2 separate regions of the Homo sapiens genome follow, and region 1 is linked to region 2. The links come from fine-mapping of genetic effects on gene expression. Tissue or cell type: lung. Region 2 holds a variant in brackets; the other region holds the start of a gene. All regions are shown on one strand. Distances are between the middles of the regions.

What was found. PIP is the estimated chance that this variant, and not a neighbour inherited with it, causes the effect.
Region 1: it holds the start of PRKCD, and the variant in region 2 is fine-mapped to the expression of PRKCD in lung (TOPMed, PIP above 0.99).

What each region holds. Positions count from the first base shown.
Region 1 is chr3:53,159,824-53,162,431 of GRCh38, forward strand. PRKCD (protein kinase C delta) reads left to right here and starts at 1,386. Exons shown (of 19, transcript NM_006254.4): 1 at 1,386-1,605. RefSeq lists silencers at 888-1,837, 2,108-2,337.
Region 2 is chr3:53,379,527-53,382,281 of GRCh38, forward strand. No RefSeq gene overlaps it. Among named protein-coding and RNA genes, the nearest start is that of DCP1A, 33 kb to the left of the region's middle. The variant C/T (reference allele first, on the strand shown) is at 1,425.

The DNA of each region.
Region 1 (2,608 bases), 220 kb before region 2:
TGCATTACAACTGGGCATCAGGGAGGAGGGACATTTGAATGGACACAACCAGGGCAGGTAGAGGTTTGGGGGTGGGGTGGGAAATGGCATTCAGGCCCAGAGAACAGCATGCTCAAGGCCTGGGTGTGAAGAGAAAGTCTTTCCCAAAGGATAGTCCTTGAACCCACCTGGTCTGGCCTTTTCTCCCCATCCATCTTCCGCAATCTCAACCAGGGTCCTCCCACCTGAACAACGTGGCAGCCCTTCTGTCCCCCATCCAGCCTCTCCTCTGCCCTGCTGTCCCTCTGCCCCATCTATCCCGCAGGAGCCCCCTTGAGCCTGTCATCCTGCCTGGTTGTAATAGCTTTCACCACCTTCTCATTGCTCTGTGAGAAGACCAAAGTCCAATGGCCTGTCTCTGTCACAAGCCCCTTTCTCAGCTCAGGCCACCTCAGGGATTGTCCCCCACTTCCATCCCTTGTGTCTCAGCTGGGAAGAGCTGTCTAGACTTTCTCTATCCCTTCTAGGTGGTTCCCCAGGACCTGGAACCCTCTTTTTTGTCTCCTGGGAAGTGACATTTCTTTGGATGAGTATAAGGCTAATGTCTTGGCTTTCTGAGCTCTGGGGACAGGGGAATGGACTCCCTAGAACCCCAACTGGTCCCTAGACTTTGAGCCTAGGGGACACTCGGTGAATAGATGAATGAGTGAATGAATGAATGAAGGAGTTATGGCTGACAACCAAGTTCCATGTCTGGAAAGGAGGCTCAGGCGCCTGCCAGGAGCAATAGAGAGGTCTCAAAGGTGGGGGCAGGAAAGCAGAAGACTGCCAATCGGGGTAGGGGCAACTGCCAGTCCGAGTAGGGGCAGTTCCCAGAACCGCCTGAGGAGCAGTGCAGCGCCCGACCAGCGAGAACCTCCGACCCTGGAGTCTAACCAGCTCAGTCTTTGGGGCAGAGCCGGGACAGCGGGCTTGGCGGCGGGCACCGCGCCCGGCCGCGTCCGAGCTCCAGCCAACAGGAAGAGCAGGAGTGGGGCCAGGAGAGGCGGGCCAGCTGGCCAGTGGGGAGTCCCGGGCGTGGGTGTGGGGAGCGGGGGAACCCCCGCCGGCCCCTCCCAGGCCCCAGCGGGCGGAGGGAGCCTCCCCACCGGGCCTCAGCGTCCTCCTCTGTAAAATGGGCCCCTTCTGAGGGCTGGCTGCGCGCTAATGGCGGGAGGATGCGAAGAGGGCCAGGCAGGGCAGAGGGACCGGGAGACTCGGTGTCCCGCGCAGGCAGAGGCGGAGGGACGCTGTCCCCGATTGCAGCTGGCGGGGCGAGGCCTGGCAGGGCGAGGCCTGGCGGGGGCGGGGCCTGGCGGGGGCGGGGCCGGCGGCACCTGGGTGAGGTCGCTCGGCCCCGCCCCCTCGCACTTCCGTGTGCCGCGGCGCCGGAGCCCGAGGCGGCTGTAGCCCACATCTCCCGAGCGACCCCCGGCGCCCGCCCGCCGCGCGGAGGCCCGGGCCACACCTCACTGGCCGCTTGGCCCATCCCAGTCAGCGCCGCGCCGAACCCCGTCCGCGCGCGCCGGGGAGCGGCGCCCCCGCCGCTGCCGCCGCGACCCTTGGCGCCTGCCCCTGCAACGGGAGGTAAGTGAGGGCCGGGTCCGGGCGCGGGATCGGGGCTACCCCGAGGGCGCGGCGCCCTTCCTTCCCCCTTCCCGCCCCAGTTCCCGTTTCCGAAACTGAGAAACTGAGCCGCGGTCAGCGAAAGTCCCGCCGCGCCGAGACCTGCCGGTGACTCCGTCCCCCTGTCCGTCTGTGTGTCCCTCCGCTAGACAGTGGGGGCTGAGGTCCTTCTGTCTGCCCGCTCCCGGCCCCTCCACCCGCCCGTGTGTCTCCCGCTCCTCCGAGGGGCCCGTCCGTCCCTCCCGACTCTCTCCCGGGCCCTGTGTCCGTCCGTCTGTCGCCACCCACTCTGTGTTCTCCCCCTGCGCGCCTCTCCGAGACCCGATCCTTCTGTCCCTCGCCACCCGATCCGTCCGTCCCTTGCCCTCCGCGTGCTCCATCGCCCCACCCCCACCCACACCCCTACCCCCGCCCGCCGCCCCCTCGATCCCGTCCTCCCGGAGCCGCGCCCCCGGCCCACGCTCGCCGCCCCCTGCCAGTCCAGCCGCCTCTCCGCTCTACCGCGGGGCCCAGGCCAGGCCGCCCGCCGGGCCTCGCCTCCCGCCCCTGGGTCCCTGGAGGCCCGACCCGCGCGGCGCCTCCTCCTCGCTGTCTCTTCTTTCGGTCTCAAGAGTCTTTCTCGGTCCCTTCATCCGTCTCTGGGCTGGGCGTGGCTCCAGTCTCCACCATCCCCCTTCCCACCCCACCCCTCCGCCCCTCTGAGACCCCTCCCAGGGTGGCCCCTGCCCGATACGGTCTGTACTCGCCCCCAACCCAGATGCCACTCCCGTTGTGGGGGCTCCACCAGATGAGGGGAGGAGGTCGGGGGGGGGGGTCCTCCTGGCTGGTGGTGGAGCGGCAGAAGGAGAGCACCATCGGAACTGCTCCCACTTCCCCAGTTCCCTCTCTCTTGGGGCAGGGGAGAGCCCCACCGAGCCCCGCCTTAAACCTGGTCAGAAGGATCTGCTGTGAGTGGGCGGGGGGT
Region 2 (2,755 bases):
TTACAATAGCAATGAACACTCAACTTTTTCCCCCGCATTTCCTATGCCACTTTCTCTGTTTTGCCTTTTCCTAAAGTGCTTACCATCTGACACATACATACATAAGTATATGCATGCACATATGCATACATGTATGCACACATGTATACACACATGTATGTAGAGCTACTCGCTTGTCTGTTGTCTGTCTTCCTCATGAGCGTGTCAGCTTCATGATTATGGGAGCTTTATTTTGTTCCCTGCTGTATTCCTGGTGCCTAGAATAGTGGCACATTATAGGCTGTCAATATATATTCACTGAATGAGTGAATGAGTGAATTAACTGTCTAAATACTTCTTTCCCCCCCAAGGCAAGTGGCAGGAGCGGAAATTTTAAAGCATTATTTTGTTTGCCTTCTGCTTGATGTTAGCTGGCCAGCTGGTTACCCTGTGAATCGGGAGGAGCCTTCTGATTCCTTTCCAAAACTTAGGCTGGTCAGGGACCACACAGTTCCTCCAAGTTATGGGCTCACAGGGATTCTCATGGGACATTTAGTCAGCACATCTTCCCCTTTGATCTCCCACAGCATACTTGGGGAGTCAACATTTATGCCTATCTGTGAGCCTGGCCCACAGCCTGCCTTCCCTTCAGATGTATCAATGTTTGGCTTTTGGGTAGAGATGCCAAACAAGGAAAAGAAGATTGTTATTTGGGCTAGGAATTACTTCCAAAAGCCAAATGTGAGAGAAGTGCTACCACAAAGGTTAGCACACACAAATAGCCTGAAAACTGGCTGGAACAATTCTGCTTGCTACAAATAGAGATGAAAAGACATTTCTAAATGTAGTCCCAAACAATCAGACTGCCAGAATTGGAAGGGCATTCCTTTCCCTCCCTCCTTTTTTCCCTCCCTTCTTTCCTTTCTTCCTCTCTCAAAGAGGACACCAAGGGCCAGTGAAATGAGACGAATCTCCAGGGTCACACAGTTAGTGGCAGAGTCAGAGCCAAAACTCAGGTTTCCTAATTCTTACTCTTTACAATATACTATTGTGGTGCCTTCCCAGTAAGCAGGGGAATAGTAAGAAAAAATTTCAATTAAATATACTGGAGAAGTTAATTGCTTAGTTCTCAAAAAGCTCAGTGCTAGTGAACAGCTAGCCAGAGTGTCACCCAAGAGATGGAAAAATGGACATTTCCAGCTGGGCACAGTGGCTCATACCTGTAATCCCAGCACTTTGGGAGGCTGAGGTGGGCGGATCGCTTGAGCTCAGGAGCTCAAGACCAGCTTGGGCAACATGGTGAAACCCTGTCTCTACAAAAAATACAAAAATTATAAAAATTAGCCGGGCATGGTGGCATATGCCTATAGTCCCAGCTACTTGGGAGGCTGAGTTGGAAGGATGGCTTGAGCCTGGGAGGCAGAGGTTACAGTGAGCTGAGATGG[C/T]GCCATTCCACTCCAGCCTGGGTGACAGAGCCAGACCCTGTCTCAAAAAAAAAAAAAAAAAAAAAGTTTTTAATGGTATAACAATATATCTATATTTATATATATCTTTGTAATAGATAAATATATAGAATGCACATAAAATTTGGAATACTCATTCTCAGTCAGGATACACAGATTCTCCAAGGAAGCTACTTAGACATGGTGCCTAGAAGTCCTGGAAGTCAAATCCATGATTTGACTCCAATGACTACATCCTATACCATCATGTGATAGAAGATAAGACTAAAATATATTTTTTGTATTTTCTTTATATTTTTGTGACCTTTGTAACCAGGGAGCTTTGGCATGATAGTCATCTTAAATAAATCAAAACATGATTTAATAAAAATGCCATTTTACAAAACTATAACTCTTAGCAGGAAACATAGGTGTAAATCTTCATGACGTTGGAGTAGGCAACAGTTCCTTAAACATGACACCAAAGGCATAAGCAACAAAAGAAGAAACAGGTCAATTAAACTTTATCAAAATAAAAAACTTCTGTGCAGAAAAGGACTATCAAGAAAGCAAGAAGCCTGGGCATGGTGGCTCATCCCTATAATCCCAGCACTTTGGGATCCTGAGGTGAGAGGATCACGTGAAGCCAGGAGTTTGAAACCAATGTGGGTAACTTAGTGAGACCTCATCTCTGCAAAACATTGTTTTTAAATTTAAAAATTAGCCTGGCATGGTGGTGTGCCTGTAGTCCCAGCTATTCAGGAGGCTGAGGTGGGAGGATCACTTGAGCCCGGGAGGTTGAGGCTGCAGTGAGTCGTGATCACACCACCTCTGCACTGCAGCCTGGGGACCCTGTCTCAAAAAAAAAAAAAAAAAAAAAGACAACTCACAGAATGGGAGAAAACATTTGTAAATAAAATATTTGTAAATCTTATCTCTGATTAGGATCTAGTATCCAAAATATATTTAAACAACTCATAAAAGAATAAAAAGACAACTGCATTTAAAAATGGGCAAAGAATCTGAACAGACATTTCTCCAAAGCAGATATACAGATGGCCAATAAGAACATAAAATGATGCTCAACATCATTAGTCATTAGGGAAATAAATCAAAACCACAGTAAGATACTACTTCACACCCACTGGGATGGCTATGATGAAAAAAAAAAAGAAACACCAGAAAATAAGTGTTAGCAAGGATGTCGAGAAATTAGAACACTCATAACATTGCTGGTGGGAAGGCAAAATCCTCAGCCACTTCAGGAAACAGTCTGGGAGTTCCTTATAAGGTTAAACAGTTACCTTATAACCCAGAAATTCCATTCCTAAGTA